Linked DNA regions of Homo sapiens: all the other regions are reported to be linked to region 1. Evidence: microRNA targets listed by miRTarBase, many of them from high-throughput screens and not tested one by one. Region 1 holds a microRNA gene; each other region holds the end of a gene's coding sequence.

What was found. The annotated mature microRNA hsa-miR-3650 reads AGGUGUGUCUGUAGAGUCC and lies in region 1 at 1,310-1,328, shown strand. An mRNA with a match to its seed (bases 2 to 7 or 8) in the 3' UTR can be bound and repressed. Matches are read on the target gene's strand: a 7mer-m8 pairs with bases 2 to 8, a 7mer-A1 pairs with bases 2 to 7 and ends in A, and an 8mer does both.
Region 2: miRTarBase lists GPBP1L1 as a target of hsa-miR-3650. Seed matches in the 3' UTR shown: 7mer-m8 at 3,291-3,297.
Region 3: the mRNA of DBT is a reported target of hsa-miR-3650. Seed matches in the 3' UTR shown: 7mer-A1 at 1,825-1,831.
Region 4: the mRNA of AP4S1 is a reported target of hsa-miR-3650. The part of its 3' UTR that is shown has no 7-base or 8-base seed match.

What each region holds. Positions count from the first base shown.
Region 1 is chr5:38,554,868-38,558,867 of GRCh38, reverse strand. MIR3650 (microRNA 3650) reads left to right here and starts at 1,307; the gene lies at 1,307-1,366. LIFR (LIF receptor subunit alpha) reads left to right here and starts at 2,222. Exons shown (of 20, transcript NM_001127671.2): 1 at 2,222-2,534. It overlaps LIFR-AS1 (LIFR antisense RNA 1), which reads right to left and starts at 2,082. Exons shown (of 9, transcript NR_103554.1): 1 at 1-2,082. RefSeq lists enhancers at 1,836-1,945, 1,298-2,081.
Region 2 is chr1:45,624,709-45,629,013 of GRCh38, forward strand. GPBP1L1 (GC-rich promoter binding protein 1 like 1) reads right to left here. Exons shown (of 13, transcript NM_021639.5): 13 at 2,596-3,700. The coding sequence ends at 3,548. Among named protein-coding and RNA genes, the nearest start is that of CCDC17, 2.8 kb to the left of the region's middle.
Region 3 is chr1:100,192,571-100,196,875 of GRCh38, forward strand. DBT (dihydrolipoamide branched chain transacylase E2) reads right to left here. Exons shown (of 11, transcript NM_001918.5): 11 at 1-3,852. The coding sequence ends at 3,685. It also overlaps the pseudogene RPL23AP90. Among named protein-coding and RNA genes, the nearest start is that of LRRC39, 16 kb to the left of the region's middle.
Region 4 is chr14:31,092,298-31,096,602 of GRCh38, reverse strand. It overlaps AP4S1 (adaptor related protein complex 4 subunit sigma 1), which reads right to left. Exons shown (of 6, transcript NM_001128126.3): 6 at 153-3,696. The coding sequence ends at 3,568. Among named protein-coding and RNA genes, the nearest start is that of STRN3, 68 kb to the right of the region's middle.

The DNA of each region.
Region 1 (4,000 bases):
TAATCCTCACTTGTTAGGGAGAGAAATGACTTGATTATGGGGACAGTTTTCCCGTGTTGTTCTCGTGATAGTAACTGAATTCTCACGCGATCTGACGGTTTTGTGTTTGGCAAGTTCCTCCGCTCACAATTCTTTCCGCTTCCTTGTGAAGAAGGTACTTGCTTCTCCTTCCACCACGATTGTTAAGTTTCCTGAGGTCTCCCCAGCCATGTGGAACTGTGAGTCAATTAAACCTCTTTCCTTTATAAATTACCCAGTCTCGCGCAGTTCTTTATAGCAGTGTGAGAACGGACTAATACACAGTATTTGCTTTTTCTTTAAGAGGACCACCCAAATTGCATAAATTGCAGGCCCCACAAAACCTGCATTACCCCCTAAGTGTGAGAATAGTACCTATTTCACAGGTGTGCTGTGAGGATTAAGAGGTAATGGACACATGGTGTGTATCAGGTGGATGTTAGCCATTATCACTACTCTGAATCTCCATCTTTCTATTATAGCAAGGCCACAGAAATGAGCATTTTATGTAATATTCTTAAAACTAAATTCTTCTCATGGAATGGGATTTTTCAACCCCAGGCAACAGGGCCACATCATGTTTTTCTTGGGCTCTAGGCCTTTTTGCCTTCGTTGAGCCCCTTACTCCATTAAAATATATATACATATACACACACACATATATACATACATTTTAAGATTGTATTAGCACAAAAACAAATATATTAATATATATTAAAATACTTTCTTAAACCTAAATTTTTTTTCCTTCTGATTTGAAAAGAAATTAAAATATTTTTTGTGGGCCTCTAAAAATATTGTGGACCTTAGGCACTGTGCCTAATGGAAAAGACAGTGACAGGATTGTGCAATATGAATAATGATAAATTTCCCAAACCATCAAGGACTCAAGAATAAGGGTAAACATCTTAAATGGGGTTGGTTTCGAGTACTTATAATAGAAAAATGTTATCCAAACAAGGTCTTAGGGGTAACAGGAGGCGTTTTTAGTGTTCAAAATACGCACATGGATGGAGTTGGCCATTAGGACGCTAATAGCGACCGTATCTAGCTGTGAAATACATATTTTTGTTTTGGGAGTCTACTTTTCAGTAAATGTCCTTTCAGGTGTTTTGTTGCCCATTTAATTACATGATCAACAAGGAAGAGTTATTTTACAAAACAAGCTTCATTTTGCCAATTTATAAATTGCTTTGGAGTTTCATCGAAAGGTCTTTAAAAAACACGTTGGCCTTGGTGCTGGTGCATCACATAAATCACAGATGAAACAAACAAGCCTGTTTCCTACTCAAGGTGTGTCTGTAGAGTCCTGACTGCGTGCCAGGGGCTCTGTCTGGCACATTTCTGAACTTTGCAAAATTAATTGTGCCGAAGAGAACACCATCAAACGCGTCCGGCATACAGCGTAAACATCTTCAGACCGTGATTCTGCGCCATCAAACGCTCTCCAGCTAATTTCATTTGGTGATTACTCTGCTAGAAAACCGAGGCCAAGTGAAACTGCGGAAATGGGAACAATGTACGGAGGAAAAATCTCACCCCATTAAGAGATCCGTTTCTTCTCCGCACAAATAAGCCCACCCCGCCTCCGAGGCAAGACTAGATGGCTCCAGGATACTCTCGGCGCGCCCGCTGGCCATCTCGGGCAGGGGAGCCCCACACCCGGCAGGAGGACCAGGACGCGAGCGGCGGCGCCTCGGCCCTGGGCTGTTTAGGTAATTCGCAAAGTCCCAACAATCATCCCCCTCTCCCAGAAGCTGGTTTTCTTGTGTGCAGTGGTTACAGAGGCGGCGAAAACACGGTTCCCCGCTTTCCTCTCCTCAAGGCACTGTTTGCAGCGGCAGCAGCGGCCGCATTCGGGGAGGCGCGGTCCTCCCCGCAGAGCCGTCGCGCACTCGGCCTTTCTCGAGGATTTGCCTGGGCTCGGCCGCCTCGCTCTCCCCTGCGCTTCCATGACCTTCTGAGAGCGGCCTCACCACCGGAGGCTCGGAGGAAGCACCACCCTCGGCGTCCGGGGCCCGTCGCGCGGCCGCGTTCCTCCGACTCCTTGGAGCACCCGCGCGCGCGGGCGCGCGGCCGGGGATCGGCGGGGGCGCGCGGGTTGGGGCGGGGCCGGGGCCGGGGGCAGGGGCGGGTCAGGGGCGGGGCCGGGCCCGCTGCGCCCCCAGCCGAGCGGCGTGCAGGCGCCGCCCCCGCGCGCCGCAGTCCCGGCTGGAGCGACTCGGCCGTGGCGGTGGCCGTTACCGTTGCCTCTGGGAGGCTCTGGCGGCGGCGGCGGCCCGCGGGGTTCGCGGAGCGCAGCGGGCCGCCCTTCGCCCGTGGCCGCCTCAAGCAGCCTCGCGCCGACACAGGGGAGGCGAGACGGCGGCTGCGGAGGCGGCGGCGCATTGTGCCCGGCCCCCTCCTTGGCGGCTCCTGCCCCCGGGCGGCTGTGGGATCTGGGCAGCCCCGGGGCGGCGGCCGAGGCTACAGAGCCGGCGGCAGGGGATGGCAAGATAGCGGCGCGGGAGCGTACCGTGAGTCCTGGGGGCGGGTGGGCGCGGCGCGGAGCAGGGGAGCCGCGGAGCCCCGAGCGGGGTCCCCAGGGGCGGCCCGGGCGGGGTGGGGCAGCGCTCCCAGCTCTGCGGAGCGTCCTAGGGGAGTGACCCCGGAGAGCGCCGCTCCGGGTCCCGCCGCTCTCCGCGCGCCCTTGGGTCACCCTCGTGTCCTGGGGGACGCGGACTCCAGCGCCCAGAACTTCTGCCCCACGCAGGGCAGTGAGTTCTGAGGCCAGAGGTTACCTGGGGGATGGGAGGGAGCTTGAAATGTTTTTCCTTCGGAGAGGTGACCTGCCAGGTGATTTCGTGCCCCTCTGCTTCAACTCCCCTTTAAACCTGTTCCTCGTCCTTTCTGTATCCGTAGTGCATTTGACTTACCTGTATTTTTATGTGCTAACTTCCGAAGGTGGTGTACTGGTTAAACCCAAAGTTAAAGTGTTGGAGGTCAAAGTTAGGCTTTGTGAAAGATGCCATTTCTGTTATGTTGTGTAAAAGCACAAAGCTGGATTCAGGAGTTCTGAGCGACACAAAACTGCACATCACGTGTTCTGAATTTACATGATTAATCTGAATTAATGTGATTTTTGCCCCCCACCCCCCACATTCCGCTACCAAAAATATATGAGGTCTTTTATTTGCAGTTGGGTATCTTTGTGTTCCTTTTTGAATGTTTAATGCAGTCAAATATTGTTATAACCTGTATTGTTATTGAGTGGCATTTATATGGAAATCGGTTCTTTGCATTTCTTTTTATGTGTCTTTAAAAGATACATTCTTTCAACAGAAAAGTTTCAGTTTAAAGTTTGTCTTCCGATTCCTGTTCAGTTTCAGATTAGTTTTTAATTTTAAAAAGTATTTGCTTGAAGTAAGATTAATGTGATATAGTAGTATCGTTTAGGCAGGGGTCCAGAAATGGTACAGAAATTAAATTTAAGGCAAACCTTTCCTTTTCACAAGTGGAAAAACCAAGGAGTTTTTTCAGCGCGAATGCTACTTGCCCTTCCCCTTACATGATTATTTTGTCACAGATCTGAAATTACATTTCACTGTTACCAGAGAGTTTCTTGTCTAAGCCTGGCAGAGAAAAGGAAGCCTAAGTATAATGTGTTTTTTAAAAACACGAGACCATTCTTTTAGTTGTCTTCTACGTTGACTTTATGCTTTATAGTCGGGGGCAACTGTTCATTTGGAAACTTCATTAGGGAGTTAGTTGCAAGCTCAATTTAAATATATGATGTGTTCCCAAGGTGATCGGAGCAGCTATTTCCTCTTCAAGAATTGAATTGAGACTTCTTTGCTTTGTAATAGGTGAGTGAGATCACTAGCAAGCCTCTTGATTAGTGGAGACTTGTATTCTCTTCTGGGGAATGAGAATCAGGGACTCTGCTGTTGAAGGAGCAAAACTTTTGTGATTTTTGAAAAATTTGCTTCTGAATGGTCATCCT
Region 2 (4,305 bases), not on the chromosome of region 1:
AACCCTCTTTACTTTTTTTTTTTTCTTTTTGAGATGGAGTCTCGCTGTCGCCCAGGCCGAAGTGCAGTGGCGCGATCTCAGCTCACTGCAATGAGCTCTGCCTCCTGGGTTCACGCCATTCTCCTGCCTCAGCCTCCCAAGTAGCTGAGACTACAGGTGCCCACCACCACGCTTGGCTCATTTTTTGTATTTTTTAGTAGAGACGGGGTTTCACCATGTTAGCCAGGATGGTCTTGATCTCCTGACCTCGTGATCTGCCCGCCTTGGCCTCCCAAAGTGCTGGGATTACAGGCGTAAGGCACTGCGCCCGGCCAAGAAACACCCTTTTCTCTTCTTTTTTTGAGACAGTCTCGCTCTGTTGCCCAGGCTACAGTGCAATGGCACGATCTCGGCTCACTGCAAGCTCTGCCTCCCAGGTTGACACCATTCTCCTGCCTCAGCCTCCCCAGTAGCTGGGACTACAGGCACCTGCCACCACACCCGGCTTTTTTTTTTTTTTTTTTTTAGACGGAGTCTCGCTCTTTCGCCCAGGCCGAAGTGCAGTGGCACTATCTGGGCTCACTGCAAGCTCCGCCTTCCGGGTTCAAGCCATTCTCCTGCCTCAGCCTCCCGAGTAGCTGAGACTACAGGTGCCCACCACTGTGCCCGGCTAATTTTTTTTGTATTTTTAGTAGAGATGGGGTTTCACCGTGTCAGCCAGGATGGTCTTGATCTCCTGACCTTGTGATCCGCCCGCCTCGGCGTGCCAAAGTGCTGAGATTACAGGCGTGAGCCACTGCGCCCAGCCTTATGCCTGGCTAATTTTTTGTATTTTTAGTAGAGACGGGGTTTCACAGTGTTAGCCAGGATGGTCTCGATCTCCTGACCTCGTGATTCCCCCGCCTCGGCCTCCCAAAGTGCTGGGATTACAGGTGTGAGCCACCATGCCTGGCCGAAACTCCCTTTTCTAAACAAGACAGGGACTTAAGACATTTCCCTACTCAGTACCTAAAGCCAAGGTATGACCCACCAGCAGCAAGTTACAAAGTGTTCAAAGTATGTCATCTCAGTTCAGCTTAATTCCAACTGACATAAAGAGTACATTTTTAGAAATATGTTCTCAGAAAACAAGTAAATGGCAAAGCCCAAATCAAAACCTCCTTTTCAACAACTAAGTTTGTCCCAATTTTCAATGGTTAAGACTTTTGACTGGTTGACTTTACAATGGTGCAACAGTGATAGGCATTCAGTAGAAATACTACTACCATTTTTTTTTTTTTTCCCTCAAGAGACAGCTTGTAGTTCTCTAATCTCCTGCTCTAGGCCGAAGAGGCGGGAGCAGGACTGTCATCCAGGCTGGATTGTAGTGGTGCCATCATGGCTCACTGTAGCCCTGAACTGCCTTGGAATCAAGCAATCCTCCTGCCTTAGCCTCCCAAGAAGCTGGGACTACAAGTGTGTGCTACCACGTGGACCTGTCTATTTTGTTTCTGTTTTTGAGACAGAGTCTTGCTCTGTTGCCCAGGCTGGAGTGCAATGGTGCAGTATGGGCTCACTGCAACCTCTGCCTCCTGGGCTCAAGCAATTCTCCTGCCTCAGCCTCCTAAATAGTTAGGATTACAGGTGCTTGCTGCCATGCCTGGTTGTTTTTTTTTTTTTTTTTTTTTGAGACAGAGTCTCACTCTTTCTCCCAGGCTGGAGTGCAGTGGCGCTATCTCAGCTCACTGCAAGCTCTGCCTCCTGGGTTCACGCCAATCTCCTGCCTCAGCCTCCCGAGTAGCTGGGACTACAGGCGCCCGCCACCATGCCTGGCTAATTTTTTGTATTTTCAGTGGAGATGGGGTTTCACCATGTTAGCCAGGCTGGTCTCGAACTCCTGACCTCAGGTGATTCACCCGCTTCAGCCTCCCAAAGTGCTGGGATTACAGGCGTGAGCCACGCCTGGCTGGACCTGACCATTTTAATGTTTTTGTTTTTTATAGAGACAGGTCACTGTGTTGCCCAGGCTGGTCTTGAACCCCTGTCCTTTTCTTACATCACTGTCTATTCTCTCCCCTACTGGGCTGGGCACTCCTTGCATCCTCAGAGCCTTGCATAATGCCTGGGACATACAACACGGGCTTAGAAAGTATTTGTTGAATGGGCCGGGTGCGGTGGCTCACGCCTGTAATCCCAGAACTTTGGGAGGCCGAGGTGGGTGGATCACAAGATCAGGAGATCGAGACCATCCTGGCAAACACGGTGAAACCCCATCTCTACTAAAAATACAAAAAATGAGCCAGGCGTGGTGGCAGGCGCCTGTAGTCCCAGCTACTCAGGAGGCTGAGGCAGGAGAATGGTGGGAACCCGGGAGGCGGAGCTTACAGTGAGCTGAGATCGCTACTGCACTCCAGCCTGGGTGACACAGTGAGACTCCGTCTCAAAAAAAAAAAAAAAGTATTTGTTGAATGAAAAAACCTGCTTCCTTCACTAGCCATTCAGCTACCATCGTCCAACTCTCCCCCAACCCCCACTCCAAGTTCTTATTTAGTAGGAAAACAGAACAGACTTCCCTTAAAATACGTACACTGGTAAATACATGGGCACTAAAAAACAGTTTCAGGAAAAAAAAAAAACTTGGTTTCTGACTTTATTACTGGTAATTTATTGCACAGGTTTTTCTGCATCAAAAAAGTATCTGCTAAAATAGAGAAACAGTTGTGTCTGAATTCACATTTCCCCCCAACTTCTAAAAATATTTCCCCTAAAAAAGAATCCACTCATCTAATTTTAAAGAAAATATACTTCTTACACAAGACAATCCAAACTGATGCAAAATATTTATTCCAAGTTAGTTATTTTATGCAGTAGTTTCCCCCTCGAGACTTGTGATAACCACATCTTTTAAATCTGTAAATAATGTTATCAAAATAATCTTAATCTTTGAAATCTCACAAAAATTTATATTTTACAATCCACCCTGAATATCAAGGCTGCAAGAATAACACAACATTTCCTATATCCAAATATTTTACAGCTGTACCCAAAAAGGAAAAAGAAAAAAAAAACAAAAAAAAACAACCAAAAAAACCCACATATGCTTGGTTAAGGGCTAAAGTTACCCGAGCAGCCAAAAATAAAATAAAATATCCAAATTATTAGCATTAATTTAATACAATTATAACTTCAATAGTCACTTTGTCATTGACAATGATTGCTTGATCACAGGGGTGAGTGCCCCAAGGGCTGGTAGTAGAAGCTGTTGCTGCAGACCAGTGTCTCCTCTTCCCTGCACTGCCAGCTCCTACCTGTGCATCGCCCCATATATACTGGGTGTGTATGTGTGTGTGTGTGTGAGTGTGTTTAAAAAATCTGTCCCACCACACAAACTTCTCTCTATAAAGCAGATAACAGGGAAGAACAATAACAAAAGCAAAACAAGCCAATTGCTCTCTCTTTGGGATATGATTATTTCCCTTGTGAATGAAGTATTCAACAACATAAGAAAAGGAAAAGAACGATTTCTTTTGTATACTCCCTAAACACACAGAGTTTACTGGGTCAGATTTAACTGTGAGCATTTATATGCCTACTTCCAGGCATCGTCATCTGATGTTTCACTGCTACTGGTTTCGGTGTCTGAGTCCTCAAACTCTGCTTTGCAAGTGCTTCTCCAAGGGGAGAACAGACTGGAACTGCGGCTCTGCAAGAAGCCATTCTTTCCAAAGCCATTTCTTCTCAGCTATGGTTAGCATGGGAGAGAAAGAAAAAAGAAAAAAATATCAATGACTGTACTGACCCATAAGCCCTGGGAAAGGCCAGGCCTCAATTCAATTCTAGGTAGAATGTGGGGCGGGGGGTGCTTCTAAGAGACCCTCTGAGATCTCTTATACCAGTACTTTTCAAATTTTAATTTACGAGTCATCTACGCATCTTTCAAAAATGCAGATTCAGATTCAGAATGTCTGGGATGGGGCTTGAAAGTCCTTATTTCTTTTTATTTATTTATTTTTTTGAGACGGAATCTCGCTCTGTCACCCAGGCTAGAGTGCAATGGCACAATCTTGGCTCACTGCATCCTCCGCCTCCTGGGTTCAAGCGATTCTCCTGCCTCAGCCTCCCAAGTAGCTTGGATTACAGGCGCACACCACCACGCCTAGTTAATTTTTGTATTTTTAGTAGAGATGGGGCTTCACCATATTGGCCAGTATGCTCTTGAGCTCCTGACCTCGTCATCTGCCTGCCTCGGCCTCCCAAAGTGTTGGGATTACAGGCGTGAGCCACTGTGCCCAGCCATAAGTCCTTATTTCTAACAGAGTTCTAAGTGGCAAGGTCTCACATCAGCTT
Region 3 (4,305 bases), not on the chromosome of region 1:
CTTTGAGTGGGAAGCCATGAGAAATGCCCAAACAAGCCAGTGGGCTTTCCAGACTAAGAGCTATCACTTTCACTCTTTCTACATAATCACTTCTTACATAGGTTTCAACATAAGGTACATTTTGATCTCTAAAATATAAATTCATACCAATTTTAGCTTCCATCCTCAGACTTCCTTTCCTGTTGTACTTCCTTTTCAAATATCAGAGGAATGCTCAAAATAATGAAAAGAGCCTTGATTTTCTTGCTGACCACTCGCAGCAATAATTTTGGCTTCTCCCCCATGTACATATACCTTCTAATCTCCAGACATGTTAGTAAAGGACTTGAATTTTCTGGCTTTTCCACTTTAATTCCAACCTCTAGGAGTACAGCAAGAGCCTTTTCCTCCTCCCAAACACCCATCCCTTGCTTTGTAGAGCCTCATGGACCAGCACTGCCACTAAGGCTGCGCTCCTGCCCCTTTGGCCCTCTTCAGGGAATCCTGCTATCCTAAGGGCCGTGCACACTGTAGGGAACAAATCCTTTGCTGAATTCTCAATGCATGAGACCAAAGAGAAGATAGTAATACCCAAGGGTTGGAATAGAACCAGATAACTTAAGGGTTATTTGGGAATAGAGTATCTTGAGCCATTGATGCTGGACCTACATACTTACTTATTTCAGAACTCCCTTCTCCTGGTTTTTCTATTCTTTAAGTGAGGAGGACATTTTTATTGATCATGTCATTATTCATTTAAAACTCAATAAATGCCTATCAATAGATAATTGGTTAAATTATGGGACATCCATCTTCTGATCCTTCCAGATAAGATCGGTAACCTTTACTGGATGGCTCATAGCATCTGGGTTATTACCTACCAAGAACAGTGTTTTATGCAGTTATTTAATATCTGTCTCCTTACTAGACTGTAAGCCCAATCAAGGAAGCATGAAGGTGGCTACTGTATGCTTAGAACCATGATTGGTATGGTAGATGTTTAATGTTTGAATGTATAATAAATGCATACAATGGAATACTATGCAGACATTTATTTATTTATTTATTTATTTAGAGACAGAGTCTCGCTCTATCACCAGGCTGGAGTGCAGTGGCTCAATCTTGGCTCACTGCAACCTCTGCCGCTGGGTTCAAGCAGTTCTCCTGCCTCAGCCTCCCGAGTAGGTGGACTACAGGCGCCTGCCACCGTGCCTGGCTGATTTTTGTATTTTCAATAGAGATGAGGTTTCACCATATTGGCCAGGCTGGTCTCGAACTCCTGACCTTGTGATCTACCTGCCTTGGCCTCCCAAAGTGGTAGGATTACAGGCGTGAGCCACCACACCCAGCCTATGCAGCCATTTAAAGCATGACAATGTGGAATTGTTTATTGACATGTAAGGTTACCCATAATATAATGTTAAATTTTAAAAATCAAATAATAAAATAGTAGATATGCTATGATCATGTTTTAACAAAAAAGAATAGCCATACATACAGATAGATACATCAAAATGTTAATAGTGGTAAGATTATGAATGACTTTTTCTTTTATTGGTTAACTCTTTGTATTATCTGAAATTTTACAACAACAGCATTTATTTGACCTGTTTTTTTTATTTTATTTTATTTTTTAGAGACCAGGTCTCACTCTGTCACCCATACTGGAGGATAGTGGCACAATGACAGCTCACTACAGCTTTGAACTCCTGGGCTCAATTGATCCTCTTGTCTCAGCTTCCTGAGTAGCTGGGACTATAGGTGCACACCACCACACTTGGCTTTTTGGTTTTTTTTTTTTTTTCTGAGACAAAGTGTTGCTCTGCCACCCAGGCTGGAGTGCAGTGGTGTGATCTCTGCTCACTGTAACCTCCACCTCTTGGGCTCAAGCAATTCTCCTGCCTCAGCCTCCCAAGTAGCTGGGACTACAGGCGTGTGCCACCAGGCCCAGGTAATTTTTTGTATTTTTACAAAACTGTAGAGATGGGGTTTCACCATGTTGGCCAGGGTGGTCTCGAACTCCTGACCTCAGGTGATCTGGCCACCTCGGCCTCCCAAAGTGCTGGGATTACAGGCGTGAGCCACCAGGCTAATTTTAAAAATAATGTTTTTTGAGATGGGATCTCACTATGTTGCCCAGGCTGGTCTCAAACTCCTGGCCTCAAGTGATCCTCCTGCTTCAGCCTCCCCTATAACTGGGATTACAGTTACAAGTCATCACACCTGGCTGATTTATTCTTTCCTGATTTTAAAATTATTTCCATTTTGAGAAAAACCAAGTAGATATTAAAACAACCTTTTTTCTGTCACAAAACTTCACTTAAACAACTAATTTTGGCATACAGTTTTCAACTGGACAATATTAGAAACAACATGGATTTCCGAATGCAAATTGAAATGTTGGATACATTCATCTCGTTGCTATTTCTGATTAAAGTAGACCTTTAACAAAATGATCATTATGAAACCTTCATTTCTATACAAAATTTCTTATTTTTTATATCCATAATTACTATTAGACTCTTCCTTCTCCTCTTATTTACATTCTTACCCAGGATATGGAGAATGGAATAGACCTTAATTTCTTATCCTATTTTTTAGCTGAAGACCAAAAAAGTTAAAAGGAAGTAGACTTCTCAAATTTTTTTTAAAAAAAGAAATGTCAGTGGCTGCTACATTTAAAGTACCTTCCTTACATGAGGGAAGTTTGCAAAGGTGAAGGTCTTCCCCAAGAAAATACCAAAGCATTACCACAAATCTAAAACTATATCCATTTTAAACAAACACCTTTAATAGACTGGTTATAAAACTATAATTGGACAATTTTAAGGCCAGTTTATACTTTTCCCTTTTCAAAGACATTAATTAATATAAATAAGACACTATCAGATGATATTCTCTATACAGAGCAAGAATATACTCTTGGATATCTCAAAAGAGAAGTATAATTGCACTTATTTCATACAACAATTAGCATAATAACGGAAATGGAAAATATTTTTGTATATAAATTCCATTTCTTAATTAAGTAAAATTAAAGTTTCATTAAGAGTCAGTTAAAAAAAATAGGGCATATACTGTCTGTATATGGCTACCTGTCTTTTAGTAACATGAATTTTGTTTTTTTGTTTTTGAGATGGCGTCTTGCTCTGTCGCCCAGGCTGGAGTGCAATAGCACGATCTCAGCTCACTGCAACCTCCACCTCCCAGGTTCAAGCGATTCTCCTGCCTCAGCCTCCCAAGTAGCTGGGATTATAGGTACCCACCACCACACCCGGCTAATTTTTGTATTTTTAGTAGAGGCCAGGTTTCACCATGTTGGCCAGGCTGGTCTCAAACTTCTAACCTCAGGTGATCCGCCCACCTGGGCCTCCCAAAGTGCTGGGATTACAGGCGTGAGCCACCATGCCCGGCCTAATTTTGTTAATCTTGCCAGTTTCAAGCCATTGACACAAAAACATCAGCACCATATTAAGAAGTCACACTCTGACCTATAAAATGTGACAGCCCCAGGAGAACCATTACACCATTATTCATTTTCAGTAAAAAGTCTAATAGAACAGTGACAAATATTGTGCCTTAGATCCTTAATCATACGATACAAATCATTTACAATATAAATTGTAAAGATGAACATGTGCTGGCACAGCTAGGGTTTACATACTCTTTGGAAGCTCAAAAAGTTCAAGAATGTCTTATCAGTCTTCATTTCAGATCTAGTAGCATAAAAGCTGGGTTTTCTAAATAGGATTTCCACAAATTGGAGAAGCGTGACATTGTAGCACCATCAATAACTCTGTGATCAGCTGACCAGCTCACATTCATTATCTGTGCCTTATATACTTCTCCTTTCTGGTTAAATCGGGGAATGGCCTAGAAATGAAAAAAAAAAAAAAAAAAAAAAAAAAAAGAACAAAGAGTAAACCTTCACTTGTTCAGAGCTCAAGCTCTAACAATGGTGTAAGATCAGGCAAACCCTTCTTCCTGTACAGTACAGAAAAAAATGGGCATCCCCAATGACTTTTGAAAATGCTGATTCCTACTCTTCCCATCTTTGAGTATATGCCTGGAGCTTACAGAAGTTCTCCAAGGTACTTCCTATCCCTTGTACAATTCCCATACCTACATTCATTAACTTTCATCTCAGATTTCAAATATTTAATAATTATTTACTGTATACCCACTATGTGCCAAGTATTCTTCTAGGCTCTGGGGAGAGACAGACAATTAAATAAGGCTTCCTCACTGAAGGCAGTGAGGAAACAAGCCATTATCAAGTTCCCCTGACCACTGAGTTGGCCAGGAAGAAGACAGGACAACAACATG
Region 4 (4,305 bases), not on the chromosome of region 1:
CAAGACAGTTACCAAATGACTGTCAAGTGGGGAGTGTATACAGCATGCATATGCTGGACAAAGGGACGATTCACCTCCCAGGCAAGACGGAGCGGGACAGAGCAGGACAAAGTGGGATGGTGCAAGATTTCATCACACTACTCAGAATGGCATGCAGTTTAAAACTTATACATTGTTTATTTCTGGAATTTTCTGTTTAATATTTTGGGACCTCAGTTGACCATGAGTAACACAAACCACAGAATGCGAAACAGTGGATAAGAGAGGGACTACTGTACATACTTTCGCCTAAGACAGTTCTGTATATTCTTCTGTTAACGGGGTAGCAAAAGCATATAGAAAGGTTTTGGGGGGATGCAGTGCATTGCTCTTCTGTAATGACAGTAATTTACTTCAAGACATTGCAGGAGAAGGGGTTAAAGGAGTAAAGGGGAGGAAGAGAAGGATTCATTTCATGCCTACCTGTACAGAGACACTTTCTTGCTTTCTACTTTTTTTTTTTTTTTTTTTTTTGAGACGGAATCTCACTCTGTGCCCAGGCTGGAGTGCAGTGGCACAATCTCGATCTCAACTCACTGCAACCTCTGTCTCCTGGGTTCAAGTGATCCTCCTACCACAGCCTCCCAAGTAGTTGGGATTATAGGCGCGTGCCACCATGCCCGGCTAATTTTTCGTAGTTTTAGTAGAGACAGGGTCTCACCATGTTGGCCAAGCTGGTCTTGAACTCCTGACCTCAAATGATCTACCCACCTTGGCGTCCCAAAGTGCTGGGATTATAGGCGTAAGCCACCATGCCTGGCTGCATTCTACTTTTAAACTTTGAACTAAATTTCATTAACAGTAAGCTTATTAATAAGCAAACCTTTTAAAATGTGGCATAAAAAGACTGGGCACAGTGGCTCAGGCCTGTAATCCCAACACTTTGGAAGGCGAAGGCAGATGGATCATGTGACTGCAGGAATTCGAGACCAGTCTGGGCAACATAGTGAAACCCTATCTCTACAACAAAATACAAAAATTAGCTGGGTGGAGGGGGTGCGCACCTGTGGTCCCAGTTACTCAGGAGGCTGAGGTGGGAGGAGCACCTGAGCCCAGGAGGTACAGGCTGTAGTGAGGCATGATCACACCACTGCACTCCAGCCTAGGAGACGGAGATGCTGTCTCCAAAAAACAAACAAAAAACGGGATAAAGGATAGCTGTAGGGGCTCTCTGGGGCTGTCTTAATGTCTGACCATCCATTATTTGAAAGTAATGTTCTCTATAGAGTTAATTACATAATGGCATTGTAATTACTAAGTGCCCTTAAAATGAGTATCAAAGGCTTTTACAAACTGGCAAATAAAATTTAACTCTGCATCTTTGTTAGGTACATGTTATAAAAGTTTTTTTGTTTTGTTTTTGTGTTTTTGAGGCAGGGCCTCACTCCATTACCCAGGTTGGAGTACAGTGTTGTGATCATAGTTCACTGCAGCCTCAAACTCCTAGGCTTGATCAATTCTCCCATCTCAGCCTCTTGAGTAGTTAGGAGTACAGGTGCTCACCACCACAGCTGGCTAACTTTTTAATTAGTTATTTACTTATTTTTAGAGACAGGGTCTCACTCTGTCGCCCAGGCTGGAGTGCAGTGGCATGATCTCGGCTCACTGCAACCTCTGCCTCCCGGGTTCAAGCAATTCTACTGCCTCAGCCTCCTGAGTAGCTGAGATTAGAGGTGCTTGCCACCATGCCTGGCTAACTTTTTGTATTTTTAGTAGAGACAAGGTTTTGCCATGTTGGCCAGGCTGGTTTCAAACTCCTGACCTCAAGTGATCTGCCTGCCTCGGCCTCCCAAAGTACTAGGATTACAGGCATGAGCCATCACACCTATTTATTTTTTGTAGAGATATGGTCTTGCTGTGTTGCCCAGGCTGGTCTTGAACTAATGGGCTCAACCAATCCTCCTGGCTTGGCCCCCCAAAATGTTGGGATTACAGGCCTGAGCCACCGCACTCGGACTTTTTTATTTTTGAGACAGGGTTTCACTCTGTCACCCAGGCTGGAGTGCAGTGACACGATCATAGCTCACTGCAGACTCGAACTCCTGGGCTCAAGAAATCTTCTGCCTCAGACTCCCGAGTAGTTGAGACTACAGGTATGTGCCACCACACCCGGCTGATTTTTGCATTTTTTGTAGAGATGAGGTCTATGTTGCCCAGGCTGGTCTTGAATTTCTGGCCTCAAGCGATCCTCCTTCCTCAGCCTCCCAAAGTGCAGGGGTTACAGGTGTGAGGCACTGCACCAGCCCCACATTACAAAGCTTTTAGAGCCAGGCCAGGAAGGTTCAAGGTTGTAGTACAACATGATCATGCTTGTGAAAAGCCACTGCAGTCCAGCCTGGACAACACAGCAAGACCTGCTTCTCTTAAAAACAAACAAACAAAAAACACCTCTTGGCTGGGCATGGTGGCTCATGCTTGTAATCCCAGCACTTTGGGAGGCTGAAGCAGGTGGATCACTTGAGGTCAGGAGTTCAAGAACAGCCTGGCCAACATGGTGAAACCCTATCTCTACTAAAAATACAAAAATTAGCTGGGCTTTACATAAAACCGGGCAGGGCATGGTGGCTCACATCTGTAATCACAGCTCAGTCTCCTGGGGACTACATGCCTGTAGTCGCAGCTACTCAGGAGGCTGAGGCAGGAGAATTGCTTAAACCCAGAGGTGGAGGTTGCAGTGAGCTGAGATCACACCACTGCACTCCAGCTTGGGTGACAGAGCAAGACTCCGTCTTAAAAAACAAAACAAAAAAACAAACAAAAAAACACCTCTTAAAAAGTTAATTTTACTAAGCCTTTTAAAGGAATAAGACAGCCTTCAGAAGTCAGGCACTGTGGCTCATCTGTAATCCCAGCGTTCTGGGAGGCTGAGGCAGGCAGATCACCTGAGGTCAGGAGTTTGAGACAGCCTGGCCAACATGGTGAAACCCTGTCTCTACTAAAAATACAAAAATTAGCCAGGTGTGGTGGTGCATGCCTGTAGTCCCAGCTCGGAGGCTGAGGCAGGAGAATCGCTTGAACCCCGGAAGTGGAGGTTGCAGTGAGCCGAGAATGTGCCAGGTGACACAGCTAGACTAGACTCCGTCTCAAAAAAAAAAAAATAGCTTTCAGAAAACAGCGTTACTCAAAATGCCTTGTGTTTAAATTTTAAAACTTTATTGGCTGACGGAAAACTGCCATACTTTCTTCCCACTACCATCCTGCTATTCCTGAATTCAATTTGCAAAAGAAGCATAGACCAAGAAGGGTTCCTTAGGTGCTCAACAGAATTTAAAGTGCGACAGATATGTTTACAATTAGAAAATAAAACTTCTCTCTCAGTTTAAAGAAATTTTTTTCTTTGTACATATTTTAAAGTACAGTTGTGTTTTCTTTTTAGGAACTGTGGAAAATGCCTATTTATAATGTCTTTGGAAGGATACCCCATTTTGTAATTGTGGTCTTCCAGATTCTTCTGGGTTAACATGTTGAGATGTATTCCACGGTACTCGCATTTCTGATAAATCCATATTGTCTCGAAGAGACTTCCTTTCAGCTTTCTGACATCTTATCAAGAATTAGTAGAGGGGCAAGAATTCTTGCCCTGTTAGTTTCCACAATGCAGCCATTTAACACCATCTCATCCAAAATGATGTGTACTTTATCCAAATTAAACATTATCTACGGTTATATTAAGGAAATTAGTTTAAAGTTAAAAATTATTAACATTCAGTAAAAATTTATGGCTTAACCTAGAGTGTTCCCAGTGTAAATTAGCCTAAGCATGAGGTTTTTTGTACAAAATTTCTGAAATTAAATTTAAAACTGGCATCCATATTAGAAATTGTTACCTTCATATATACATACCTAGTTTCACCTTGGTTAAGCTAACAGGATAAGTAGGGATAAAAATGAAACAGCTACATTTTTTAACCAAAGGGATAGGGGGTCTACTAAGTGCTAGAGAACACAGCAGTGTCATGTGGCAAGAGAATGACCTTAACTCAAAAATAGTGTTGTCTTCCCAGACAATAATAGTAACAGTAGCAACGATTTGTTGAATACTCCCGTTCCAGACAGTGTGTTGAGTTTCAGCCCTCTACAAATCTCTGATGTATGTTGTTACATATTATCCTCAGTTTACCCAGGATCAAACAGGTTCAAAGCATAGTCCAAGGTCACATGGCTAGTAAATGCCAGGTTTGAATTTAAACCCAAAGCTTGGGCTTGACTGCTCTGCTTATAGGCTCCTCAGGAGGGGCTAGACACCTCCCTCCTCAGCCCCCAAAC